Regions from separate parts of the Homo sapiens genome. Here regions 1, 2 and 4 are each reported to be linked to region 3. The links are microRNA targets in miRTarBase. Many come from high-throughput screens and were not tested one by one. Region 3 holds a microRNA gene; each other region holds the end of a gene's coding sequence.
The links. The annotated mature microRNA hsa-miR-8071 reads CGGUGGACUGGAGUGGGUGG and lies in region 3 at 2,645-2,664, shown strand. An mRNA with a match to its seed (bases 2 to 7 or 8) in the 3' UTR can be bound and repressed. Matches are read on the target gene's strand: a 7mer-m8 pairs with bases 2 to 8, a 7mer-A1 pairs with bases 2 to 7 and ends in A, and an 8mer does both.

Region 1 (7,117 bases), not on the chromosome of region 3:
AAATGAAGGCAACATTGGTTTATCACTAACTGTTCAGATTCTGAAGGTATTAATATGACTGGAAAGACCATCTGAGGCTTGTACAGTTCTGGCGTAAGTCAAAATCCTGGTTGATGACATTCCTTCTTTAGCACCACGTATGCTACATCTTCCTTTGCCTTTTACATTCTTAGAGAAAAGGAAGAGGGGACTGGAGACTTGGGCTTTCTGGGGCATAGGGCAGTTGGGGCAGCAGAGGATGATGCCACCATCCTTACTCTACAGCTTCACTATTGTCTTACGGGGACTTTTTTCCTGTGGGCTTTCACCCAGCAAAAGCAGCAGCCGTCAATCATATCCTTGCCAGAGAGATTCTTAATATAGGAGAAACTGTAATAAGGAGAAACTACGTAGAAGTAGCCTGCCTAGCACTACGTTCGTAAGTTTTAATGGTTGGCAAACCCCGAGAGGTGGTTAGGACCCTTGGCGATGTACATAGCAGCATTGTACAGCTGCCCTCTAAACTTGGGACATAGAATGGAGAGTCCAGGAGGAATTGGGAATCCTGGCTTTCATTTCCTGATGACCAATGACTTCTGCATAATATTGCACAACTTCTCTGCCTCATTTCTTCTGTGAAGTAAATACTGGCAGCAGATCTTGTTGGCTAGGATCCTATTGATTTTCTTTTTAGGACAGGGTCTCACTGTGTCATGCAGGCTGGAGTGTAGTGGTGTGATCATAGCTTACTGCAGCCGCCAACTCCTGGGCTCAAGTGATCCTGCCTTAGCATCCTGAGTAGCTAGGACTACAGGCATGTGCCAGCAAAACTGGCTAATTTAAAAAAAAAAAATGTAAAGATGGGATCTGGCTGTGTTGCCCAGGCTGGCCTCGAATTCCTGAGCTCAAGCTATCCTCCCACTTTGACCTCCTAAAGTGCTGGGATTAAAGGCATAAGCCACCATTCCCCACCAAGGTCTTTGAAAGCAATAGATATCTCAGTGTTTATCACTAGTGTTAATTATGTAGCCAGTTCTATTCTTTATTTACTTTTTTCCCTTGTGGTACAGAAGAAATCTGTGATTTGGGAGGGAGCTTATAGGGAAGGTTCTGAGTGACAAATGAGCATAACACATTTAAATTGACAACTGAGCGTGTGTCTTGGTTGGCAGGCAGGGATCAGGGTGAATGACCTACTCAGAAAGAGAATGGGATCTTAGGTCTAACTTGTGGCCCACAATAAGCTGTGGGTCACTCTTAGAACAGTGCACCTCGACCATGGCCAGGGTCCTGTGTGAGTTCCTTGTACTTGGACTCCTTTCTGTATCCTTGGCACCCTCTCGAAGCTAACCTCAAAATTACCCGGGCCCAACTCTAGACCTCTCTTCAGGGTTTAACTGCTTTTCACAACAACTTTCATGGAAGGAAAATCATGTTGTAACAGTAGTTGCATTCTAGAAATGTATTTTGCTGTTGTTGGAACTCTGGCATTAACGTGATACTGAGAAAAGAGTGTAGGACTAAAGAGCAAAAAGAGAATCAAGGCCCATGCTGCCATTTAAATGGTTGTGTGATCAATCTCAAAGAGAATACTTAACTCCTGCATCTAATTTCCCTAGTGGGGACAATTCCTATAAGATAGGTTTGTAAACCTATAGGTTTCCTATAAAATGGTTTGTAAATGGTAAGATGCTAGGCAAGTAGACAAGATTGTTGTCTAGCAACTAAGATTATGGACCAGTTCTACCTGACAGTTTCCCTTCTGCAAGTTTGGAATGATGAAGTTTACCCCTTCCGATGAAGAAGCATGCAGCTGTGGATAATACCACACTAGGAGATGAAGAAAGAATCATCTCCAGTGATTCCTTCCTTAAACCGCTATCTATCTTCACTGCAGACCTGGAGGAGGGATAGGCAGAAGCCTCTTGTGGCAGTAAACAGATCCTTTTATGGCAGAAACAGGGCCAGAACAGAGCTTTGTTTTTACATATATATATATATATATATATATATATATATATATACATACACACACACACACACACACACACACACACATATATATGTATATATATAGTCTCTTTGCCAGTGTTTTCATACCTGATCAATGTTCAGCAGCCCTCTTGGGGATTTCTGATAGTGGTGATTCACAATGTATCTGAGGCAGAAGTAGAGGGAAGGAAGACAGCGAAACATACAACGTCATCTTAGGGGAAAGTGAGGTTCTTTAGAGTCACTAGGATAGCTTGAGTAACATAAAGACTCATAACCACCTTTAGGATCCCCCTTTTTTTTTCTTCCGGTTTCTCTCCTTCTCTTGCCTAATTTCTTTGCCTGCAGAGTTGGACAAGTGTAACTCAGCACGGAGGCTCCTGTGCTACGGGTGTGAGCCGACATTCTCAGGCACTTTGGCGATGAGCCTCATACACAAGTGAAGGCTTTAAGAAGTCCGAGGAAACTACTAGAGCTTGAACCAGTTTACACAAAAACACTTTAATTGACAGTATACAATTTTCCAAAATATATTTTTGTAAGAAAATGCAATAATTATTAACTATAGTTTTTACAAACAAGTTTCTCAGTAAATTCCAGTGTACTTCAGACCCCTGTCCACTAAGACATATATGATCCCCCAGTTCCTGGGCAAACTGTTGAACATTCACTGCAGACAAAAAGACCAACACCAAAGAGTCATCTGTGTCCTCCATGCTGTGTTTGCAGCAGACCTGAGGGATCAGCTAGTGACCGTGACAAAAGCTATGCTACAGTTTTACTCTTGCCCTCTCTGCCTCCCCCATCATGTTTCCTTGGTCCCTCAGTCCTGTTGGAGTAAGTTCCATATATAAAAGCTCATCCAAAACTTTGTTTCTTGGCAGAAAGAAAGAATTGTTCACTTACATCTTAAACCTAAATGATTCAGAGAAAGTGTAGAAGACCAGTTCTTATGTTTGTGTTCATGCCCTCCCTAGCCTTGCTAGGGTAACAACTGGGAAAGGAATTCTGTCCTTTGTGTCATTCTGGCACCTTCGAGTAGCAATTCTTAATTTACCGATTATTCCTTCTGAGGCGCACAGTCTGTGGATCCAGGTTTTAATCTTGTTTCTGTCCTGAACCATGTGATTTTGAGGAAGTCACTTCATCTTTGTGAGCTTCAGATTATCTTTTTCTCTAGAAAAAGATTGGACTAGATCTTGAAATACCTTTCTCCATGACTACAGGGTTGCCTGCCAACCAGAGCATATTGACTCCAACCTTTACTGAAATGGAGCTGTGACTTTGCTGGGGAGGGGGCAGGGTTGCATTTTAAAATTAAAAAAACAAAACAAAACACCTGATCTACAAGACAAATACTTTATCATAAGTTTGTCTTGTTATATTTCATTTTTTGTTTAAAAAAAAAAATCAAGCAAAAACTTGTCATTTCCAGTAAGACATTTACATTCCTGTCCAGAGAAAAAACTTGGCCATCACTCAGCTAACATAATGCTTTTTCAAAGTATGTTCACTTAAAGCAGTGCAGGGTAGGTTAACATGGTCACTGTATTTACATTATCAAAAAAATATGTGTATATGTATCAGTTTGAACTTGTTCTTCAAAGTTTCTCCAGTATATTGTCAAAAAAGATAAAGCTCAAGAAGTGGTTTAAATAAACTTTCTGCTAGCTTTCCTTATCAAGCGGGAAAAAAATCTGGTGCCTAGACTAGATTAAACCCGTATTCTGTCTTACAACGCAAAGAATATTCTGTACCTCCTTCATAAGCTTTGCTGCCTGTCTCCCCACTCTCATGACAGTAGGCTTCCTAGTCATCATACTTGTGGTTTCTGGCCTCCTGTGCAGCTTGGGGAAACCACAGTTTACCACTGAAAGAGCTGATGATAAACTGTCTTTGCTACAACCTGTTTAAGTCATGCTGAGCTTCTAGTGTTCCTCTTACCTCTTCCCAGACCCAATGCTCTCTGAATTATCAGAGAGCATTTAGAACCCAGTAAAGGTGGCAGAAGATGATGACCTTTATAGATGCATGGCTGTTTGGCCTGTTGACATAGGTGTCCTGGTGGCAAGAGCAAGGCAAGGTGTCAGATTCTGAAGCTGTCCTAAGCCTAGACTAACACAGTTTGGACGAATATAAAGCAGTAACCTCTGAATCAGCCCAGAGCCTCTCCGGGTTCTCCTTGGACAGAGCGATGGAGAGTCAGGAGAGTCAGGACCGACCTGGCCAGGCACTCCTGCTCTCTAGTCCTTGCCAGTCATCATCTGTCTCCAAGAGGCCATAGGGTTGCAGCCTTTGATTGATTTGCAGAGGCCTATTTGCTGTCTCCGTCAAAAGCCCTGGCTGGTGAAGTGTGACCCAGGATCAGCAAAGGAGGAATAATCCAGTCTGGCCTCTCCCACGGGACCACAACAGAAAACCTACTGGGTGGAGAGAACCCAGCGCTGGGCAAGAAGGAAGCAAACACCTCACTCAAGCCTAACAAGATTTCCTGTTTTCCCCCAAACAGGCACTGTTCTCCATCCTGCCCACCTCCAAACACTAGAGCATCGGGGCAGATGTTTTTGGAACTTGTTAGCCTCGCATCCCTCTAACTCCTGGGAAACTCGCTGGGGCCCTATGTGAACCCCTGGCCTTCCTTTTCCCCTAGGATATCAGATGGCTACAGACTGTGAGGAAGGAATTAGGCAGATGGTGCAGGACAGATCTTCCCCAGCCCCTCCCCCTACCCTTTTAAAAAGTAAGCCATCCCGAGTGGATAGCCTATTTCATCAGAGCTACTACAGCCGGAGCCTGACTCTTAAGACCCTGGAGGTGTGGCGTTTCACCCGAAAAATGGCAATTTCATTCCCCTAAGCAGTTCTGCCCATTTTCCTACTTGATCCCAGGGAATTTACGCCCAGAACGATGGAGACCATGGCGAAAGTTCAACATTCCACACAGGATTCCCCCTTCTCAATCAGATGAAACCTCACCATGCCCACTGCTTAGGAGCCTTCTACATGGCAGCTAACTGCCGAGCCCATAAAAGTCCTATATTGGGGAATAGACATAGCTTTGTGTTCCCCTGAGATGCCACCAGAAACTGCAAGAGAACCGCAGCAGCCCCACTAGGCTCACAGAGAAGAGGAACAGCAAGGCCTAGCTCCAGGCCAGGACAGTGGGACGTTCCCACAACAGTCTGTCCCCCAGGCTGCCCTTCATGCACCCAGCATGCACTGCGCTTTCCAGGCCCTCTTTTCCTGTGGCACAGGAGAATCAGAGTGAGTGAGATGAGCTAACTGGACGTCTGCCAACTGTCTGAGCTTTTGGCCTTTGGCAGTGGAGGGCTGGGTTAGAAAACAACTATAACAAAACTCTCAGCAACTTGAAATGTCCCTGAGTTTCCTATGATATACAGGGGAAAGCCTGTCCTTCCTGGCTGCTTTAATGGATTGTCTCTGAAGACACATCGCTGATGGGGGGCCCCGGGAAGGCCTCTCCTGCAGCCACTGCTCTTTCATACTGGGTCTCAGGGAATCACTCCCATCAGCTGAGCAGTGAACAACAAAAGGAACACGCTGCTCTCACTAGCTACAGCAGATTTTAGTCCCTGGTGGAAATGGAAGCCCAAAGAAGATCGTGGGTGGCCTCTGCAAGGAGTGCCAGGGGCAATGGGCCAGTGTTCCTGCTGACCCCTCATCAGCTGCCCTGAGATACCAGCCTGGACTCGAGTGTCCCCTTCTCTCCTCACCTGCACGCAGGTCCCCTAAGCAGACCTGGTTCACGCACGGAGACCTGTGTGGGTTAAGCCCCCATCTCACGAAGCAAATGTGAGAAAATCCGAATCCAGAACAAGGGGTTCAAGGTTATGAATAACCTGTGCTAATCCCAGAGGCCCCAGGACAGAGTAAGTGGGAACAAACACTGAGTGTAGGGAGGGGTAAGAACATAGAGGGTGGGAAGATGGGTACACGAGGCTGGGGTAGGAGAAGGAAAACTTGGGAGCTGGACTTTCAGGTCGTCAGATCCCACCGAGCCAGGATGTAGCCCTGCCCTCCTTTCCAGCCCAGCCACCTGCTGGAGTTTCACCCCTGCCCGGGACTGCTCTGGACGGAAGGCACATGTGAACACAGCAGTGTGGCATGGTGCAAATGGAATCTTTGTTCTCATCCTGGCTCTGTCACCAAGTGGCTCTGACCTTGGGCAAGTCACTTACCCTCTTCAGGTCTCGGCAATCTCACTGCAGAATGAAGGGATTCCACTAGTTCATCTATAAAGTCCCTTACGTGGCTTTTTCTTGATCTCCCTCATCATCCAGCAGCACTGAGCTCAGGCACTAGTGGGTTATTTTACAAGAGGAATCTGGACAGAATGTGATTTGTTCAGGTTGAAAAGGGAAAAATTAAGGCCCTGGGGGGATTGGGAGGGGACACCCCTCGGAGTTCACTCTCCCTCCCCAGTCTTTCCCTTCCCCATCCAAACGGCACTTGGGGTGGTTGGTCTGGAGCTCTGTGGTGCTGCTGGAGGCCACCGGCAGACCGGACTAGAGGTGTGTGTCTTCCTCCTCATCCAGGTCGTCCTTGGTCAGGTTGTCCAGAGGGACGATCCAGCTGTCCCCCAGCTCCCCGTTGAGGCTGACCACCTTCTTCTCCTGCATCTCAGAAGAGGTCTCCATCACTTCCAGTGTTGGGTTGTCATGGTAACCATTCTCCACTGTCTGCAGCTCCTCTGTTAGCCGCTGCTAGAGTGGGGAAGGTGACCGGTGAGAAGGGGGTTTCAGAGGGCTCTGAGCTTAATACAGCGCATGTACGTACCCCTCCCACTCAGGAGCCCCACTGTAGCTAAAGCAGGCCCTCATTGCTCGCCTGTGGGGCTGGCTGCTCCTGGTGGTCATTCTGGCTCTCAGCCTGCCCGGAACTAGTTGGGAACAAAGACTTGCCCCTCACCCTCACCCTGGTGGCAGAACCTGTGAAGTTAGTGGAGATGGACTTTGTTCTCCAGAGTCCTCTAAGCTCTCTCCTCCCCTTCATCCCTTCCCCCAAAACCTCCTCTCCAGGCACCTACCTCACCTATCATAATGAATGGGAAAAACACTATTAAAAAATGACCTCTCTCGGGCTGGGTGACTGAGCCCTCAAGCCTGGGCAGGATGGGTACGGTGTCT
Region 2 (7,117 bases), not on the chromosome of region 3:
GTGGGGGAAGGAAATGTCAGTTCCCCACCCTCCCTACTTTCCTTTCAGGCCCTCCCAGGTCAAGGTCCATGGCCTTCAAGACGGCCAGGGAGGGGTTCTGCCTGCAGCTGGCAGCACAACAGGCAGATGGTGGTAGTTGGGAGGAAGGGGTGGGGCCATCCCACAGAAGGAAATGCATGTTCTGGAAATTTTAACAGCTGGGCCTGTTTGTGTGGTGGGGGGACATTCCCAGACAGCTCTTGTTTAGGGTTTTGTCAGTCCTTACCTAGCTGAGAGGAGGGCAGTGGGACAGCCTACATCAGGGACCTCTGTCCTCATGTCCTTCTCTGAGTTCTTAGGGAATGGAACTTGGCTTCACATCTGCTTCCTCCCCGCTCACTCCCCATGGCACTTTAGGGCCCTTTTCCCTGTTTTCTCGCTCCCCAGTGTCCTTCTCTTTTCTCCATCTCTGCATCCTCTGTGCTGGCTTGTGTCCTCATCCCCCCGACACCTAGGGACCCCAGCTGCTGGTCCTGTCTCCTCCATGCTGGTCCCTGGGGATATCTTTTCTAAAGGACATCTCTAATCATATAATCTCCCTCCCTAGCACATTCAGGGGCTAGCCAGTGCCTGGAGGATAAAGTCCATACTCTTCAGCCTGGACTCAGTGACCTTCCCAGAGGGCGTCCTCGCACAGCGGGTGACGGGCCCCAGCACTCCCACACACCTCTCCTTTCCCAGCTCTGCGCCTTTGCTTCAGCCATTGCCTCTGCCTGGACACCCCTCCCTCCTTCAGTAGTTTCTAATGTAAGAGCTTCTCTAACCATCTGCTGAGGTGCTCTCAAGTGTCCCGTTCTCCAAGGAGCCTTTGTTAGTCCTCCCTGTGGTTAATTCATCGCTTCTGCACTCAGTGTCCCTTGCTTGGTTGAGATTTTTCTTTTTCTTTCTTTTTTTGTTTTAAGACAGTTTTGCTCTTGTCAATCAGGCTGCAGTGCAGTGGTGTGATCTTGGCTCACCGTAACCACCGCCTCCTGGGTTCAAGTGATTCTCCTGCCTCGGCATCCCAAGTAGCTGTGATTACAGGTGCCCGCCACCGCAACTCGGCTAAATTTTTTTTTTGTATTTTTAGTAGAGATGGGGTTTCACCATGTTGGCCAGGCGGGTCTTGAACTCTTGACCTCAGGTGATCCACCCACCTCGGCCTCCCAAAGTGCTGGGATTATAGGTGTAGCCACTGAGCCTGGTCTGGTTGAGATTTTTCTAATAATCTTTCCCCACTTAGCTCTCTGTGTAGCAGGCATAGTGTAGAGCATCAGACTCCCCCCTCTGACCCTGATTACTCTTCTCTAAAATAGAATCCTGCCTATTATTGATAATAAAGAGCTGATATACTGAGTCCTTCGTATGTTCTAGACAGTGTGCTCAGAAATAAACATGCATTGCCAGTACAGACAGGTCAAGTTACTTATTTACTTCTACTAATAGTGGTGGATGGGATTTGAACCCAGGCCTGCCTGCCTCCACAGACTTAACCACTGAGCAGAGGGCTCAGTTATGTAACTACAATTTCCCACTTGCCTCACTCCAACCCTAAAGTGGGGAAATCTGTAGGAAACCCAGGTTCTGGTGGGGAATGAAGAGGCATGTTAGAGCGCTGTTTTACCGCTTCTGGGTTCCGAAATTCAGGTTGGGCAACCCGACCCTTCTCCCTCCCATGCTCAGCTCAGTCTGGCTTCCTCATCAATAGGTAAAGGAGGAAGTGTCAGCAGAGAGAGCAGAGCCTGGAATCAGGACAGCTGCGTTCTAGCCTCAGATCTGGCACTTACTAATACAATGGTCACAATCCTGTCTCTGGGCCTCAGTTACCAAACCTGTGAAACGAGAGGGTTGGTTGGGGCCATCTCTAAGACCATTTCCAGTGAGTCAATCCATGATGTACTGTCTATGTCTTCAGGCAGTATGTTTCACCACTTGGAGCCCAAGTTTCCTCATTGGTAAAAAGAGGGTGATCACCCCTATAATACTGCAAAGGAAGTAACGGCCATGGAGGCAAAGCTTCTCAAGTGGGATTATTCTGGTGGCGACTTATTGCTTGCAGCTGTGCTGGGGCACCATGAATATAGGGGGATTTCTTTTTTTTTTTTGAGACACAGTGTCCCTTGGTAGTCCAGGCTGGAGTGCAATGTCACGATCATGGCTCACTGCAACCTCCGCAACCTGGGCTCAAGCGATCCTCCCACCTCAGCCTCTCGAGACTGCAGGCATACACCACTACCTCCAGCATTTTTTTTTCCTATTTTTTGTAGAGACGGGGTTTTGCTACACACAGGCTGGTCTTGAACTGGGCTCAAGCGATCTGCCCACTTTGGCCTCCCAAAGTGCTGGGGTTACAGGCACGGGCCACGGCACCTGGCCATAGGGAAACTTTAAACAGCCAGCGGTTCCCACACCACCGCCACGGGCAGGAGGTTGAGTGGCAATTCCTAAATAGCTGCTCTCTGCTCAGGTTAAAAGGGCACCCCCCCTCCCAATGGGCAACTTCCTTCGGGTATTTCCTAGTGGCCCCAAAGACCAAGATTGGCCCATCCCAGTTCAGAGCTTGTAACAGTTTGCCCTAAAGGGAAAATGCAAGGCTCAAGGCAGGAGGGGGAGCAGTGAGGAGCTAGAGAGTATTGAAGCCCACCTCCACAGGTGACGACAAAAGGAGAAAACACAGGGTGCTTCTAAAAGCACCGGCCCTGGCCGGGATGGCAATTCCAGTTCTGTCTGCTGCTAGCTTGCTATGTACCCTGGGCCAGTTGCTTCCTCTCTGTGGAAGTGACAGTTGTTTCATCTGCAAGTGAGGGAGGGAGGTGAGAATTTCTGAGGGCCCCTTCTACCCTTAGAACATCACAGCCAGCCTCCCTTTCTCCCACTTTGAGACAGCAGCGGTTTGGGCTTCTGCTTTCTCTTTCCTTTTAGTTTTAAATTAGCCCCCATCGCTTCTCCCGATTAAACTTTGGCCACAGAAGCAATCTCCAGTGTCATTTTGGAGAGAGCTGAGCAGGAGGGACACTCAGTGGAAGCTCCTTAAGCACCAGAACCACATTGGTTTGTATGTTTTGCACCTAGCACGTGGCATGGAACATAGGAGCCACTCATTAAGTGTAAACTGCATGCATGCATGAATGGGGTGCTCTGGTTCAGAACAGTGGCTACTCTCCTCCTCTGCTAAAACTCCAAGAAAAAAATGTGGTTTGTTCAGCTGGCACCGAGCTCTTAGTAGGACCGTTGCAAAAGGCTCCCGAATGGCACCCTGCCTTCCTACATTTGTCCTCAGAGCATAGCTAGACGCACACCTTCCCCACTCAAGAACTCCAAAGGCTTCCCCTAGGTTATCAGAGAAAATCCTGACATTTAAAGTCCTCCTTAATTGGAGACAAACTGTCACTTCTCATCTTGTCTACCTCACCTCACAAACTCTTAGGGTTTCCTTCCTGCTACCGACCAGTACCAGAATGCAACTACCTTAACTGAAAATTATGTGGAAAATGCATGCTGAGGCATTAGGGAGGCATCAGACAGCTACTGCCCGATTTTAGCTGTCCTCATTCCTGGTTTCTAGGCCTCCTCTTCTGTGTTCCCCTCAGCTCCATGGGCTCTCCTCACTTCTATTCCCTGATTCCACTCTTCTTTCCTTTCTGCCCCAAGCCCATTTCCCTCAGTATATATTTTAAGGCACTTTTCTTTTTGGGTTCAAATGCCTTTGTGATCTGCAGCTGACGGACTTCATGAAATCAAAGCCATAAAGCATCATGGGCTCCACCTTTCAGCCCCTACAACTGAGCCTGGTTCGGGGCAGGTAGTGAGACTGACTCCGAGCCAGGCACGCACCCTGCCAAGCACCTCCACGTGGTGCCTCCTTTTATTCCCACAAGGCTACAGGATAGGTGGAATTGGAATGAGGAGCCCTGTTTTACAGAGAAGGAAACCGAAGCTCCTGTGCTGACGGTCAGTTAGTTACAAAGGTCTTAATCCAAAACTCTGAACCATTTTGTTAATTTATCTTTCAGTAACAGTTCAATTAAGTTAGACAAATATCCCAAAAAGCTCTTAGCTGGCCCTCAAGGCACTTGAGTTCACAGCCCAGAAGAAAGGAAGTAAAGACACGGTAAGGTAACTTTTCTTTGTTTCAGACTCATTATGTCAGAGATTAAGAGAGAGCTCTTCAAAATTGTTGGATCCAACCCCCCACTATAAAGTTGGAGTAACTGAGGCCCAGTGAGGGCAATGGCTGGTCTGAGGTCACAAGTGAGGGAGGGACGAGACCAGACTCTCTCACCTGCCTGTTGCTGTCTTCACAGCTATGAAAACAAACACATGCGCCGCGCACGGTGGCTCACGCCTGTAATCCCAGCACTTTGGGAGGCCAAGGCGGGTGGATCACCTGAGATCAGGAGTTCGAGACCAGCCTGACCAACATGGAGAAACTCCATCTCTATTAAAAATACAAAATTAGCCAGGTGTGGTAGCACATGTCTGTAATCCCAGCTACTCGGGAAGCTGAGGCAGGAGAATCGCTTGAACCCGGGAGGCAGAGGTGGCAGTGAGCCAAATTCATGCCATTGCACTCCAGCCTGGGCAACAAGAGCGAAAGTCCATCTCAAAAAAAAAAAAAAAGAAGAAAAAGAAAAGAAAGAAAAGAAAACAAACACGCGCTAACCTGCAATAAACTAGTCTGGTCAGCCAGGGTAGGGAGAAGTGCCCTTTGGCCAGCAGCCAGCCCCATGCCATGGTCACTGGACAATCTTAGACCAAAGCCACAGACCAGAAGTAGGGCAGCGGGGGAGGGAAGGCAGAGGAACTGCAGTTGCGCCTACTTGCTTATCAGTGACCTGCATGAAGGAAACTTTCCATGCACCTCTCCAGATCAAGATCACATCGGGCACCCTTGCATAGTTCAAAAGAGGAAGTTTGGGCTTGGTTGAAATGGATGAAGAGCATACAGAAATGTCCAGACAGCGAGAGGGGATGAGGGGGAACCTGAGGCCCGGAGCAGGGCTGGGCCAGCCTTCCCAGGCTTGCTGCAAACTCAGATTCTCCTGTGCGCTTCCCGGGAAACACCTTGCAAGAATTTAAAGACGTAACTCGCTCCTGGACAGACTTTACAACCTCAAGCTCTAATGAGGAAAATCCAGGCTGCAGGCTCTAGGTAGAAGACAGAGGCCCTCACTGGAAATGTGTTTATGTGTTTGTGTATCTCTTTTTATTTCTTCCTTAGAAATAAAAAGTGTCAAGGGAATGAATCGGAGGCATACTTTAGGAAGTTAATGTTAGAAGGGAAGCCAAGATTTTTTTGTCCAACTGTCTCATTGTAGATAAGAAAATAGAGACTCAGGGAGGGAAAGGGGCTGGCCTAAGGTCAGAAACAAGTGCATGGCAGATGCAGATTTGAACCCAGGCATCCAAATTCCTGGTCCAGTACTCTAGCGCGGCCTGGATGGAGATGGGTGGTGAAATGGATGGGAAGATTTGTCAGTTTGCCCCAGCACATTTACTATCCTTCCCACCACCCCGCCCAGCACATTCAACTGGCCCCTGCCACCAACCCCCTCATTCAAAGTACAGACACTACTCATTTTACAGACAGAGGTTCAGGATGTTTTTGGATCTGACATAGCCCAAACCAGGGCAGAGGCTGTAGCAAGGGGAGGAAGCTGGGAAAGCCTGAGGGTCAGAGGGGAGTGGAGGTGGACAGGATCTATGGCTACGGTTTTTCAGCCGCTCAGCCGTGCTGGGCCCTCGATGGCCCGTGGGAGTGGGAGCGTTTCCTAAGCTCCACTGAAGATAAGAGCCCAACCCAACCCCTCCCCCCACCCCTGCCCCTTCCTTAGTCTCTGGAGCTGGAACAATCAGGCTTGGCCATGGCGGCTGGTGCTGATAACCATTTCTTGGCAGAAGTGCCCGCCAAAGCTGTGGCCCTAGTCCTCACCACCACAGAGAGCCAGCAAGGCCTTCAGGAAGTCTCCGGAGGTGTCACCCTGGCAGAGGCAGAGAGCAGAGTGAGTGAAAACAGTCCTTCCAGTCTCAATGCCCCCTCCTCCCGGCTGCCCATCTGTCTGGACATCTCCCTCGGCTTCTCTCCATGACCAACATAGGATCCCATGCCACATGTAGGCTACTGGGATCTCCCAGACACATAAATGTGACCACGTCCCTTTTGTTTATCCCCAGGAAGATATGCAAGCTCCCGGCCTGGCTTCAAGGCCCTTTGGGATCTGACCTGTGCAGAGCTCTGCAGCTTCACCTGTTCCTTTCCCCCAGGAGCATCTCAGTCCTCTCTCCACCTGTCACTCCCCTGTCCAACATGCCCCTGTGCACCCCCAATCCCATTTGCCAGCAGGGCCCTCTCCTCTGAGAAGCACTCTGGCCACTCTCTTGCGTCAGGAGGCACAGTGAACTCTGGCCTCCCTTGGTTCCCCTGGCACTCTGCTGATACCCTCCCCCATGGCCCTTGGCATATCGTGTTAGGTGATTTCTTATTTGAACAAACAACATTGAGTGCTAACTGCCAAGCCATTGCTGGGAATGGGTACAAACACCATCACGCTCACCACACATCACAGTGGTCTGGTATACGTTCAGACTGGGGAGGCCAAACTTCCTGACCCATGGTATGGTATGGATCTCCCTTCTGAGGGACTCCTATCATTGTTATGAGACATGGTTTTCGGGATTTTGTTTGTCCTTGTATTTTTTGATGTATGATTTTAAAACATAATATAGTATCAAAATGTGCCAACAATTTACTTACATTCCTACTAAGTCTGTAAGAGACTGCCTCTGAGATGCCCATAGTCTCGTTAGCCAAGTAGAACCAAGCATCAGACTTTAAGATCTTGGCTGATCTCAAAGAGCAAAAATATAAGCTCCATATGTCAAAAAAGTCAGACGCAGCCAGGTGTGGTGGCTCACACCTGTAATCCCAGCACTTTGGGAGGCCAAGGCAGGTGGATCACTTGAGGTCAGGAGCTAGCAACCAGCCTGGCCAACACAGTGAAACCCTGTCTGTACTAAAAATACAAAAATTAGCCAGGCATAGTGATGCATGCCTGCAGTCCCAGCTACTCGGGAGGCTGAGGCAGGAGAATTGCTTAAA
Region 3 (7,117 bases):
ACGCCATCCTTGGGCTTGGGATAGAGCCGGTGATGCAGCAGCTGCCCGCCCTGCACCCCAGGTGCTGTCTCCCTCACCCCCCGCGGGGCTGCAGCAGCGTGTCCTGAGAGTTAAAGGGCTGGGCTTCAGCACCCAGTTCAGGCCAGGCCCCCTGGAGCCCACCCTCCAGTGGCGAGCCTTCCCACGGCATGGCAGGGCCTGGAGTCTGGGGATTTAGTCCCCAACTCCGTGTTTGGTGCAGCTCCAGCTGCTCGATGCCACACAAACGAATCCAACCACTCCTCCTTCCTGGGTGAGATGGTCTCTCTCCTGCCACAGGCAACTCCGACGGCATTTTCCAGCCACCGCAGCCACCGCAGCCACTGCAGTAACAAGACCCTGTCCTTGACTGAGTTCCAGCCAGGCTCCTCGGAGCCTCTCCACTCGGCCTCAACCTTGGCTTGTAAAGACTTGAGCAGACACTAACAGTTTCTAACAGCTTCTGGCCGTACCCCTAGGCCGACCCCTGCCCCGTCAACACCTGCCTGAGAAAGCTCCGTGCACCAGAACTCACCGTTTGGACCAACCCCGACCTCCCTTTCTCAGGGTGTCTGCTGAGAGGGCCGCAACCACACGTCCTTCTATCCGTTCCCGATGTCTGTGCATTTCCTGTGACCCAGGAGGGTCTTTCTCAAGACTTGAGAGCCGCTCCCTGAAGTGTCCCCTTTGTGAAGGATGGGGCCTGTGTCTCCAGGCTCTGGGAGGACAGAATCCTGACCTCAACAGTGGCCGGCACGGACACAGCAGGTCCCATCCCGGGGACGCTGACCAGCGCTGGGCAACTTTTCCCTTCCCCGACGACTGAGCCCCGAGCACCCACCCTGCTCCCCCTACCACCTCCCTTTACAAGGCTGTGGCCTCTGCACAGATGAAGGTGAGTCCAGGTCATGCCGGACTCTTTCTTCTGTTGCAATAGTTATTTCTGTTGAAAATCCGTCCTTGCTACATGATCTAGTGCCCAGCTTTATCTTTGAAAATGTCTCTCTCCACCTTTGCCTCTCCTGCCTTGTCCTCGTTCCTGGCACCCACCATGTGTCCTATGGGCTGAATTTTACCATAGAATGAATCACACACCAGGTTTCACCTGTGCCTGATGAGGGTGACAGTTTGATGAGATTTTAGGCTTAGAATTGATGCTGAAAGGACTAAGACTTGGGGGATGCTGAGACAGATGAATGTATTTTGCATGTGAGAAGAACATGAAATTTGGGGGGCCATAGCATGGACTGTTATGAGTTAAATTGTGGCCCCTACAAATTCATATATTCAAGTCTTAATCCCTGGCCTCACAATGTGACTATTTGGAGATGGGGTCTTTACAGAGGTCATTAAGTTCATATGGGGTCACTAATCTAATGCGATGTGTGTTCTTATAAGAAGAGAAGCTTAGGACACGGGCACACAGAGGGATGGCCATGTGAGGACCAGGGAGGAGACGGTGTCTACAAGCCAAGGAGAGAGGGCTTGAGAGAAACCAGCCCTGCCTGCATCCTGATCTCAGATTCCTGGTCTCTAGGCCTGGGAGGATCCATGTCTGCCGTGGGAGCTGCCCCGCTGTGGTCCTGAGCTGACGCACACAGATCTGACACCCACCTCTCGCTTCGGACCATGGTTGGTTCTGGAAGGCCCTCCCTGTGGCTCTGCCTGGCCAGCCTGAGCCAGCTCCCAGCCTCGACCCAGCTTTCCCTGGAGGCCCTGTCCCCCGCAGAGTGACCAGGGCAGGCAGCACCGTGCCCAGCAGGAGGAGAAACTGCATCCATGTAGAAAAGAGGAGAAGCCCCGGGGGTCCATGTAGCGACAGGGGCCAGGGAGGGCCGCTCGGGCAATGCGTGTGGCTGCAGGAGGCGGGGGGCGAGTGCAGGGAGCCCCCGAGGTGCAGCTCGACCAGCCTCCTCCTGACCGTGCTTCCCACCGGGGGCAGGAGGCGCGTGGACACAGGAAGGCGGCTCCCATCACGAAGTACAAGACTTAAAAAGGATATTTTATTGTCATCACAAAAGAAACATCAAAGACAATTAATGAGCTTTAGAAAATTTAAAAGAAGAAGAAAAGCCAAAGCTGAAATGGTGACACCTCCTTCGAGTGAGCCCGGGAGTCCTCCCTGACGGCCGAGGCAGGCGCTGGCCGCAGTCCCGCTCGAGCCTCCCTTCCTGTCTGTGGATTCTGCGTGACAGTCACGGAACGGTGTGATGGGGGCAGCAGAGCGTGGGGGCCTCTGTCCAGCACTCGTGGCCAGCAGCCCCGCTTTCGCAAGAACACGGGCACCCTCTTTGTCGTCTTGCCTCTCCACCTGGTGCCCCCAGAGTGGCTGCTTGTTCCTGCTGCACGTGACCCGGGACTGGACGCCAGCCTCTGTGATGAGTTCTGGCTGTGTCCACGCTCCTGGCTCTCCCGGTGTCCCTCCACCTCTCTCCCCGATGCTCCTGGGCCTCCTCTGTCCTCAGGCCCCACCAAGGCTGAGTCTTGCCCGCCTGGGACCTGGTCACCAGCCTTCTGTGGGAGGCCTGTCTGGGCAGATGCCCAGCCCTTCCTTGGGCTATCCTCACCCTTGCACTGTGGGGCTCCTGCAGCGGCCACATGGCCCAGGCTCTTCTCCGAGTGATCTCGGTGGACTGGAGTGGGTGGTAGGTGGCAGTGTCCTGGGCCTGGCCCTTTCTCTCCCCAGTGCGGACTCTGGGGCTGGCTGTCCCTGCGGGTCCAGTTCCACCCGAGAATCCAGCAGTGTGGGCAGGCAGCCAAGGGGTGGTGCTGGCACCGAGACTGTTCCCAGGAGCCAGAGAGCAGCGTTCTTTGCTTGAAATCAGAACAACCTCATTCCTCATGTCAGGAGTTCACGGGAGTGCCCGGAATGGAGGCTGGCTGGCTGCGGGCTGGGAGGAAGGCCGTCTGAGTGAGCCTTCGCAGCTCTCGGAAGCCTCCCCAACAGGGCCTGATGGTGCTGTGGCTTCCCTACCTTGGCGACTGATGCTCCCACTCACCATCTGGAAACCATGCCTGTGTTCAGGAGGCTGGCGTGGACGGGGTTGGCTCCAGGGCGAGGTCCTGCCTGAGTGGGGGCCTGGGATGCCGGTTACCTCCTTTTGTGTGAGCACCTGGTGGTCCAGAGGGCAGGGACGTCCTGCTGAGGGGACACCTGGCCCTCAGCGCCCTGCATGCACCAAGCAGCGGAGGTCTGGGGTAGACCTGCTATGCACAGGGTCTGGAAGGGGGGCGTTTCAGGGCTCAGAGGGCGACTGCGAAGCCAGAGAGCCATGGGGTTGAGGGCGGTGAGGTCAGGGGGCAGGTGTGGCCTGGGTGGTGGCTGAGCATGGCCCACGGCTCGTGTGTGGGGTCTGGGCGGCCCTGGACACCCCGCAGAGGGTGGCCCTAGGCCCCCTGCCTTATCATGTTCCTGTAGTCGGGGACGATGGTCTGCTTCAGGTCCACCACTGAGGAGAAGATCCACTTCACCTGTAGGCAAGGCACAGCACAGGGGTGAGCGAGGCCACAGCCCTGCCCCTGAGCCCCACCCACCCCTCAGGCCACCCAGGCCACAGCCCTGCTCCCAAGGCCCATCTGCCTTTCAGGCCACCCAGGTACCGGGGCTCTACACTGCCTGCCCCCAGGCCTGGACATGGAGAGCAGAGCCATGGTAGTGACAGCATGTGGATAACACAGAAGACAACGTCAGGGACAGGTGGGGACAGCGTGGGGGACAGGGAGAGGTGGGGAGATTGGGGGACAGGTGGGGACAGCATGGGGGACAGTGTCAGGGACAGGTAGGGACAGCGTGGGTGACAGGGAGAGGTGGGGAGAGTGGGGGACAGGTGCGGACAGCATGGGGGTCAGTGTCAGGGACAGGTAGGGACAGCGTGGGGGACAGGGAAAGCTGGGGAAAGTGGGGGACAGCATGGGGGACAGTGTCAGGGACAGGTAGGGACAGCGTGGGGGACGGGGACAGGTGCGGACAGCATGGGGGACAGTGTCAGAGACAGGGACAGTGTGGGGGGTGAGTGGGGGACAGGTGGGGACAGCATGGGGGAGTGTCAGGGACAGGTGGGGACAGTGTTGGGGAAGGTGGGGACTGTGGGGTACAGTGTTGGGGAAGGTGGGGACAGCATGGGGGACAGTATCAGGAATGGGGGACCGCATGTGGGACAGCGTCAGGGACAGGCGGAGACTGGGGGACAGTGTGGGGGAAAGGTGGGACAGCATGGCGGACAGTGTTGGGGACAGGCTGGGGGAGAGCATTGGGGACAGGTACAGCGTGGGGGACAGAATCAGGGAGAGGTGGGGAGACCGTGGGGCACAGCATCAAGGACAGGTGGGGACAGTGTGGGGGACAGTGTCAGGATGGGGGATAGCATGGGGGACAGTGTCGGACATGTGGAGACAGCCTGGGGGACACTGTTGGACAGGTGTGTACAGCATGGGGGACAGTGTCAGGGACAGTTTGTGGAGAGAGTGGGGGACAGTGTCAGGGACAGTGTGTGACAGCATGGGGGACAATGTCAAGGACAGCTGGGGACAACGTGCGGCCGACCTTGAAGAAGGTGACGGTGGCACTGTAGCACACGCTTAGCAGGAAGAGTGTGATGAAGATGGTGATGGTCGTCCACAGCCCGTCCAGCTCCCCGTCCTGCGCCTCCGCACAGCTCTCCTCCAGTTGCAGCTCTGGACAGGAAGGGGGTGGTCAGTGCTGTGTCCCCCTGGGCTTGGGCCTCTGGGGGTGATTCCCTCTGTGGCGGGGCCCAGGATGTAGGGCCCGGCCGGGATGGGCCAACAATGTCCTGAGGTCAGCTCCCGGAAGCTGTCCACCCTGGGCACCAGCTTTGGCCCTGGGGCTCAGCCAGACACCCGGCCCTAGATAGCGACCTGGCCCTCAGCAGGACCCACTCCCCGTCTCCCGTGTCCCTCCCTGAGCCCCAGAGGGCAGGAGGATGGTGAAACCCACCCCTCATGTGACCCCAGCTGCAGGGAAGGGCTGTATTGGGACGTGGGCCAGTGCCAGGGACGCGACGTGGCGTGTGTTCCCCTGTGTGTGTGGCGGCTGCAGGGGCACCTTGTGAGAGGAGGGCTGGGTTTGTCTGAGCTGGTCAGCATGTGGAGAAGCTGCCGAGCGGCTCGTGGGCCTTGAGGTGCCGCGTGGGGCTCGTGGGGGCCTGTGTCTGAGGAGTGTTCACGTGTGCGAGGACCTTGCTCTGGTCTGGGTGCTGTGCGGTTCGCCCGGGTGAGGCTCCGTGTGTGAGGCGTGCACGTGTGTGTGTGGTGGCCGTGTGGCCGGCCAACCTCAGTGCGGGGTTTGTTGAACGGGTCTGGGCTGAGTGTGTGTGTGGGCATCTGGACCAGTCCCTCCACAGGGCCCGAGAGTGCATGTCCCCGGAGTCGGTTGTGTCCCCATGTGGGTTCGAGGCTGGGCAGGGCTGCCAGGGGTTAGTGCCGTGGGGGTAGATGGGTGAGGGAGGGCCTGTCCCTACGCACATGGACTAGGCATGCCCCCGAGTGGGCATGCGGGTCGGAGGACAGGGCGCTCACAGAACAGGACAGTCTCCTACAGAGGCAGGGGCTGTGTGTCTGTCCCCAGGGGCTCCTAGGGCTTCTCGTGGCCCAGCCCAGGGCAGGTGCTGCTGGAGGGAGGGCCACGCTGGCAAATCCCCCACCCTGCCGAGGGCAGCCCCTGGCTGAGCCCCACCCTAGGCGGCCCAGGCACACCTGCACAGCCTGGGCCAGTGTGGGGACAGTGGGACCCGCTCTGCCTCCCTCATGCCACTCAGGCCTCAGACTCGGCCTGACCCGTGGAAAGAACCATCACAGTCTCGCAGGGGCCCAGGGCAGCGCTGGGTGCTTTATTTCCATGCTGGGCGCCCGGGAAGTATGTACACGGGGTACGTGCCAAGCATCCTCGCGCGACCCCGAGAGCCCGGGGAGCGGGGGCTTGCCGGCCCTGGCACTCATTTACCCAGAGACAGGGAGAGGCTCTTCTGTGTGTAGTGGTTGTGCAGAGCCTCATGCATCACGGAGCATGAGAAGACATTCCCCTCCTGCCACCTGCTCTTGTCCACGGTGAGCCTGCTGTAGAGGAAGAAGGAGCCGTCGGAGTCCAGCACGGGAGGCGTGGTCTTGTAGTTGTTCTCCGGCTGCCCATTGCTCTCCCACTCCACGGCGATGTCGCTGGGGTAGAAGCCTTTGACCAGGCAGGTCAGGCTGACCTGGTTCTTGGTCATCTCCTCCTGGGATGGGGGCAGGGTGTACACCTGTGGCTCTCGGGGCTGCCCTGTAGGGACAGAGGTTGGCACAGCGGTCACTCCCAGGGCAGAGGGTGGGCCGAGCTGACCTCTGTCCATGTGGCCCTCGCACCCCGTGGGTCCCACCTTTGGCTTTGGAGATGGTTTTCTCGATGGAGGACGGGAGGCCTTTGTTGGAGACCTTGCACTTGTACTCCTTGCCGTTCAGCCAGTCCTGGTGCAGGACGGTGAGGACGCTGACCACACGGTACGTGCTGTTGAACTGCTCCTCCCGCGGCTTTGTCTTGGCATTATGCACCTCCACGCCATCCACGTACCAGTTGAACTGGACCTCGGGGTCTTCCTGGCTCACGTCCACCACCACGCACGTGACCTCAGGGGTCCGGGAGATCATGAGAGTGTCCTTGGGTTTTGGGGGGAACAGGAAGACTGATGGTCCCCCCAGGAACTCAGGTGCTGAGGAAGAGATGGAGGTGGATGCGTCAGCACCCGGCTGGGGCCTGTCCCTGGATGCAGGCTACTCTAGGGCACCTGTCCCGCCTTGAGCTGGAGGGCGAGGCCTGGGTTGGCTTACCTGGGCATGATGGGCATGGGGGACCATATTTGGACTCTGCAGAGAGAAGATTGGGAGTTACTCAGATCTGGGAGGAGAGAAGGTGTCTGAGCTGAGGGAGTGGAGAGTTTGGCCTTTGGGGTGGGCTTAGGTCAGGGGCAGGGTCCTCCCGGATATGGCTCTTGGCAGGTCTGAGCGCAGCACCTGCCCCTGTATGCGCAGGGCCTGGGGTAGGGGCATCCAGCCTGTGGCTGCCCGGAGCCTGGTGGAAAAATCCAGAAGACCCTCTCCCTGAGCATGA
Region 4 (7,111 bases), not on the chromosome of region 3:
TTTCAGATGTAGAAGCTAAGGGTCAGAAACACAAAATATCTTACCTAAGGTCACCCAGCAGAATTACTGGAAGAGCGAAGACTTGAATCCAAGATTCCTGTCTCTAAATCCAATGCTCTTTCTACTCTAACCTTTCTTACTCATGCCTATGTTATTCTTTGATCTGCATTTGCTTGGGAGAACCAAGGAGAATATTAAAAAGGTAGAATTCTGGCCAGGCGTGGTGGCTCACACCTGTAATCCCAGCACTTTGGGAGGCCAAGGCAGGCGGATCACAAGGTCAGGAGTTCAAGACCAGCCTGGACAATATAGTGAAACCCCGTCTCTACTAAAAATACAAAATTAGCTGGGTGTGGTGGCACATGCCTGTAATCGCAGCTACTCAGGAGGCTGAGGCAGGAGAATCACTTGAACCCAGGAGGCGGAGGTTGCAGTGAGCCGAGATCGCACCATTGTACTCCAGCCTGGGCAACAAGAGTGAAATGACGTCTCAAAAAAAGAAAAAAAAAAAAAGCCAGGTGTGGTGGTGCGTGCTTGTAATCCCAGCTACTTGGGAGGCTGAGGCAGGAGAATCGCTTGAACCCAGGAGACGGAGGTTGCAGTGAGCTGAGACTGCGCCACTGCACTCCAGCCCGGGAGACAGTGCGAGACTTCGTCTCAAAAAAAAAGGTAGAATTCTAGGCGTAGGGAGAAAGACAGCTATTTGGGCCCCTGAAGCTTTGGACATTTAAGAGGAGAGATAAAGGATGAGAGACGGGAATGTGAGCTTTTTGGTAGTTTGTATGTGGGAAGGAGGAAGAGAGCTGTCCGGACCTCTCTTCAGCTCCCCATCAAGGATGTGGACCTCATCCCCAGAATCATGCGGCCTGCATGCATGTGCAGAACTCGGAGACTGCTGGCCCCTCCTCAGGGGTGCTAGTCCCATGCCCCCATTCCAGGCTCTATCCTCTGTAAGGCTCCTGTTGAGTTGTGAGCCTCCTCCTAGCCTACCCTGATTGTTCCCAGCAGCTTGGAGTTCCCAGTCTGCCGATTTCCAAGGAATTTACATATTGGCCCATACTCAGGCAAAAGCATATCTTTGCAGTTAACTTATGGCCTGTCTGGGCTATATCTGCCTCTGCTGGGTTGGAAAGGACCCACTATGGTAGCAGGTGAGGGTGTCTCGGTCCTCACTTTACTGACCTCCACAGCTCACTTTTGTTATTTATTGGCACAGGAGGAAGAAGGGGAAGACTGTACACTCAGTGTCTACAGGCAACTGCACAACTCCCTGGATCCGTCTGAACTGCCTGGGAAGCAGGGGCTGCCAGAGTCTGGGCGAGTACGGGCCGAGGAACGATTACGGCCAACCAGGCCCTGTGCTGAGGAGAACTGAGCCCGCTGGGTGTCTGTTGTCTGCCCTCTGCTCCTGCTTCTCAGCTCTTCCACCGTCCTGCCCCACGAAGGATCCAAGGCCAGTTAACCAGGCAAGACACAAGCCTTGGCTGGAAAACTGTGGTAGAGCCGGGCTGTGGCTCAGGTAATTTTTGCCATTTGGCCAGAGGGAATCAGAGACTACAAGCTGGACAGTCACCCAGGCCCAACCTTCCCCAATGCACGAGTCCTCTCTCTCTCCTTGTCCCTGTCCACCAAGTAGTTGGACCATTCTGGCCCCCAAACAAGGGAAGATAAAGTCCCCAGCACACAGCAGGAGTCAAAAATTCTTCTCGGCTCCTTGGTGGGTTGTTTCTGGATCCTAGGGCAGCCTCTGTCTGTGTGGTTAATGTTCTGGTTTCTCAGTCTCCTCACTATATCCACTTCACTCCTCATTTGCCCAATGGGCTCAAGTACCCCATAAGATTTACCAGCCATCAGCTCTATCTAGGGGGCTTTCATTTCTTTCCCCTTGGAGTTCTTTTCTTCAGACTTAAAGCAGAAAGGGGTCTGTGCTGCCTCTAAAGGATTATGAGACTACCCTTTAGGTTGAAGTTTGACCTGGCTCCTGGCTTACCAGTCTCCTGGAAGCAGAGCATGCAGATACTCATGCGGATACCCATTGGAATGACATCATCCCTCCCCAACCCCAGCTCTCTCTGCTCACCTTCCAAAGGCACCTGGAGGTGCAAGCCTCATGCATCTCCTTTCCTGAGCACCAGTAATGCTGCTGGCATCGCCTGCTTTCTCTCCAGTGGCTGGAGACTTCAAGCTGACTTCATTGTTTCCACCTTGGGAAAATCCCTAGGCTAAGCTGGGCCTGACCCAGCATCCTCTGCCTTCTAGGAAGTGCCCAGCAAGAGGGAAAGCAGACCCCTTTAGTCACTCCACAAGCAATAGCTCCATGAGAGGCATGGACTGTGAGACTACTCCCTCCTGTTCCTCCTTCTCCATCCCCCATGGAGGAGGCATCGCACTTTACCAAGCTGATGCATTCCTACAGAAGTGGGCCCCGGATTTCTGCAAGTCGACTATCATGATGACTTCGCTGGAGGAAAGGTGATACGTACATACGCATTGAGGGCCTCAGCTTTATATAGTTCAAAATGCAGCAAACTTTTCAGAAAGCCACGTAAATAAATTGGTTAGGTTCCTTATACCAGTCACATGGGGAAGTTGAAAAGAATTGTATATTCTTGGCAGTGCTTTTTCTTTAGCATTCTGTCAATTCAAAGAAGGGATCCTCTTTCAAAGGCTACCTTTATGAAGTAGACACTATTGCCCTCAGAATGAGAGAACATTAAACTACCAGTCTGGTAAGCTGGATTTTTTTCCCCATGGCTTTACTTCCTTGCTGTGTGACCTTGGGTGAGTCATTGTCTTCTTGGAGCCTCAGTTTCCCTGTCTGTAAAATGAGTTCTTTGAAATGGATGATCTCTAAGGGCACCAAATCTGGTATTCTAAGGTTCTCCTGTTTTCACCATCTATAATAGTATGGGATGATTTTTGCTTGTGGAAGGTATCATCCGTGTGGGTTCTTCCCTCCTGCCCTCAATTGTTTTTCTGGGCCTTGTTTTTTAGTTTCTGTATGTTTTAATCTCATGGGGATGAGCTCAGAGAAGCTCCGTGGGCCTGTTTCCCAATCTGCAAAGTGTGAAGGGATTAGATGGGATGGTCTCTGAGGCTCTTTGTGGCATCAGCCTTGCCCAGTGCCACACAGTATCTCCTGGCGTTCTAGGAGTCTAGGTATTATGGAAAGTACCCAAGTCTGTGTATCTCCTGTTCCTGTGCATCTCCTATGAATTTCCTGGCAAGAGGAAGACTCAAGACTTCCTCCAGAGGAATTTGTCTTCTCTGCCTTCACTCAGCATGGGAACCAGTGTTCATCCTGACCTTGTCTGTATCAGATTTGGCAGTGAGGAGGCTTGGGGAGCACCTACCTTACTTTCAGGGACAGGAATCTATTGCTCATACTTCTGCTTCCCAGAGTTTTGCCAATCTAAAGGCATTGTCATGTGGCCTGCCTTTCCTGTCCACATCCCCACCTCTGATGCTCAAGATGCTATTTCCAAGATCTCTTACTGCTGCTTCTCCTGGCTTACTGGCCAGAAACTAGCTCACTCAAGGCTGCCATCCTTCACTTGCAGCCTCCCTGCCATTCTCCTTCACTGGTTGGCAACCTTGAGAGTTCAAAGAAAATCAACCTCTGTGGTGGTCAACTAAAGGTATTAGGAAACTAAGTCTGTGGCTCTTCTCTGCTGATGGAAACAGAAGGGCGCCAAGCCATGCCTAAAAAGATCTCGCCAATAATTCTTGTCTTTGAGTGTTGGAGCCCTGGATTCTGGTGCTATAGCTCCTGGTGCCAAAGTCTGGATCTTTCCACATTTCAGCAGCACCAACATCTGCTGCTACTCAAAATGTCCTGTTGAAGAGGGACAGCTGTGATGCCCTTTTGCTGGGGCTGCCATCTTGAAATCTGAGTGCAATAGGATTTGCTTGTAACAGTTATTTCAGGATATTTTGTTTCTTTAATCTGCACACTTTCTAGATAGATTTTATTTTTAAGTGTCCTCAGCATTGCAGAAAATAACATTGTAATAGCAAGTAAAGGCTGGAGGCTGTTTCTCTGGGCTTCAAATGGCTGGCAAGGCTGGCTCTCAAATCCCAAAGTTGGGAGGCATGTTTCTGAAAAGCAACTGAGGTGTGACTGTTTGGACCCAGGCCTCATCATCAGGGGTCCTGGAGGAAGCCTCCAAGTAGAGGGGAGACCTGGTAGTTGAATAGTTGTTTAATCAAGCCAAATAGTCCCACTGCCCCCGGTCAACAAACCCACTTTTATGACAGTTTTCTTCCGCAGCTTGGCTCTTAAATTTTACTGGCAGGTGTATGGTTGTTGGAGGGTTCCTAGTGAGTTGGGGGACCTGGCAATAGAGCTGCTTGGTTGGAGGAAGTGAAGCTGGCTTAGTACCAGCAGCTGATCTCTTCCACGTGCTGCTGCTTTTTTTGCCACTCTGATACTAAACCAGAGAAAGCTGCAGGTGGATAAAGAAGCTGTGGCTGTTTTTTGCTTTTGGGTGGCAATGAGAAAGAGTCACAGTGTGGGTTAAAGGGATCTGCAGTGGGGCCAAGGATGCCACCCCACCCTCAGCTGTAGGCAAGCTTGCACATAAATAACCCCCGTCAGTGGAGTGTTCGGGATGCAGGGGGCACTATAGTGTTCTTGGACTTGTCGTCCTGGGGCAGTTTTAGTTCTTTATATTTAGTGGGTCAGTGCCAAGTGCTACCACTTCCCAATAAAGGAATGGGGACCCAGAGGCTGGGTCCCTGGCTACCTTGTTATGAGGTTTTGTTATTTCTCTGACAAGATTGCTTTGGAAAGAGCTGCTTTTAGGGATTATTTTTTGAATACCCCGAGTGGGGAGCAGGGTTCTCCTCAAAGCCTCACAACCATAGGATCATAGGAAAGGGGCCCTATTTTCCTGCTGCTTCCCAGCTCAGAACATATACTGAATGGAATGTATTTTTAAGAGAATAAAGTCTATTTTTTTGTATTTTAAAGATTGAGAGGGCTAAGAAAGTAGCCCTCAAATAAACTGTTATTGCATTATAGGCCCCTTTGTTGGGGGCAGCCTGTTGGTCCACACCTACTTGCTCAGGCAGGTGCTCTGGTCTCTCTCACCCCTGCCCCTTAGAGTCTAGGTGCAGCAGCTCCAAGCATGGGACCAAGGAGGCCAGAACCTGTCGCTGGAAACCAGGGCAAAGCAGTGGCTCAGGGCTCCTTGGGTGCATGTGTATCATTGGAGCTGCCTGTCTGCATGTATCCTCTGGCGCGAATGCTCTCTGTTGGCTCTGCAGTACAATATGTAACCAATAAAGCTCCCTCGTTTCCGTATACTCTGTGCGAGTCTGTGATGCCAGTTTTGTCAATGTCATCCCTGTGTATCATCTGTCTTCTATGCGTTGGCGCAGCTCTAGTATATTTATTTATTTCATTGTGTAATACTTAAAATTGGGTATTTTACCTAACCAATTACTGATACTGCAAGGACTGGAAACATTAACTGCCCTGATCCTGGTGTGCAGATTCTTTCCATTACTGCCACGAATTCTAAGACTAGGGGGGGAAAAGCCTTCTCCGTTTTCATCTTCCAGTCAGATCACCAATATATATAATGATGTCCCTTAACTCACAGTAAGAAAGAATAAAACCACATTTAAGGGACATTACTTGGATTTGCAGTAACAGTGTTTATCATCTATCTGTCAGTCAGTCAGGAGCCCCTGGGAAGGAACCAGCATGTAACATGTTTTTATCATCTTATATGGCAAAAGGGACTTTGCAGATAAGGATGCTGGGATGAGGCAGAACATCCTAGATGATCCAGGTGGGCCTTAAATGTAATCACAGGTAGTATCCTTTTAAGAGAGAGACAAAAGATTTGACTACAGGAGAAGGCAATGTGATGATGGAAGCAGAAACTGGAGTTATGTGCTCTGAGGATGGAGGAAGGAGCCACGAGCCTTCCCACACCTAGAAGCTGAAAAGAGCAAGGAAATGAACTGATCCTCCCTGCTCTGAGAGCCTCTGTAATGAATGCAGCCCTGTGTACCCATTTTAGACTTTAAGCTTCCAGAACTTTCGAATAGATTTCTGTTTTTTTAAGAGCCACTAAGTTTGTGGCAATCTGTTAAACCAGCTGTTACCTAAGCCCTTGATCCTATGTAGTGCGCTTCCCAAAATGTACACCACCACCTTTAGTAGAATTGGGAAGTTTTAGCACATACCCATGGAGGGAATCAGGAATAAAGGCAGACTGGTCTCCCAAAGGCTCAGACTTTGTTTCAGCTCTTTTGTGTTCTATCTTGAAAGTGCATCCAAAGTTTCCTAATAACCATGTTCTTGGCACACCACCACACTCCACCCCCACCCAAGTGAGGAAGCCTAGTCCGACTGACCAGGAAGTCCACTGCTTCTACAGGACCGGCCCCCCTACCTTATCTTCTGACCTGATCAAACCATTTTTCTCTTTTATATGAACATCTTCTTCCTTATTTAAACATGGAGAAAACATGTATTACTATTGCCATAGGATAAACTTGGCATTTCCAAAGGAGTAATGCCCCCATCTTGTATGTAACTCCAACTCAAAGGAACAAAAGAGAGGGCCAATTTTATATGAAGTTTTATTCTCAAAATATAAAAAAAAAACAAAAACCCCACACACCAAGGGACTAAGATGATGTTATTTCACAGCACTTGCTTGCCTCAGTCTTTACGAAGAACACAATTCCAAACTAATGGACAAGTTCCTCCCTGTGCTCTAGGTCATTCAAAGGAGGCAAGCTCCTTTGTCAAATCAGGAGCTCCATCAGCTGATCAGGAGCCCAGATGCCAGGGTGGATTTTCTCAGTGGGATCTAGTATTGCTAGAAGAGCCTTCCTTACATGGCAGAAACAGGCACATGGGCCTCTTCCCTTAGAATGCATCTGTCTCACATGCTTGGGGACTGCTGTGCAGGAACACCTGGTGTGGCCTGGCGAGGCAGCGTATACATGGCCCCCAAAAACTGGTCTGCAATTCTTCCCGCTTCTCGCAGCCCACTCAGCAGAGCACCATGCACTGTGGCTGGGTAGTTACGGATCGTATGTTCTCCCGCAAAGAAGAGTCGTGGAATCGGCTATTTTAGGGGAAAAAGAG

Region 1: miRTarBase lists PODXL as a target of hsa-miR-8071. Seed matches in the 3' UTR shown: 7mer-A1 at 5,565-5,571.
Region 2: the mRNA of ANXA6 is a reported target of hsa-miR-8071. Seed matches in the 3' UTR shown: 7mer-m8 at 5,708-5,714.
Region 4: miRTarBase lists LUZP1 as a target of hsa-miR-8071. Seed matches in the 3' UTR shown: 8mer at 1,624-1,631.

What each region holds. Positions count from the first base shown.
Region 1 is chr7:131,497,815-131,504,931 of GRCh38, forward strand. PODXL (podocalyxin like) reads right to left here. Exons shown (of 9, transcript NM_001018111.3): 9 at 2,457-6,694. The coding sequence ends at 6,497. Among named protein-coding and RNA genes, the nearest start is that of PODXL, 55 kb to the right of the region's middle.
Region 2 is chr5:151,095,509-151,102,625 of GRCh38, forward strand. It overlaps ANXA6 (annexin A6), which reads right to left. Exons shown (of 26, transcript NM_001155.5): 26 at 5,198-5,999. The coding sequence ends at 5,940. Among named protein-coding and RNA genes, the nearest start is that of TNIP1, 18 kb to the left of the region's middle. RefSeq lists enhancers at 2,898-3,007, 3,198-3,247.
Region 3 is chr14:105,618,507-105,625,623 of GRCh38, forward strand. MIR8071-1 (microRNA 8071-1) reads left to right here and starts at 2,610; the gene lies at 2,610-2,674. It also overlaps IGH and IGHG4.
Region 4 is chr1:23,083,159-23,090,269 of GRCh38, reverse strand. LUZP1 (leucine zipper protein 1) reads left to right here. Exons shown (of 4, transcript NM_001395462.2): 4 at 1,217-6,240. The coding sequence ends at 1,375. It overlaps KDM1A (lysine demethylase 1A), which reads right to left. Exons shown (of 21, transcript NM_001009999.3): 21 at 6,581-7,091. The coding sequence ends at 6,906. Among named protein-coding and RNA genes, the nearest start is that of MIR3115, 42 kb to the right of the region's middle.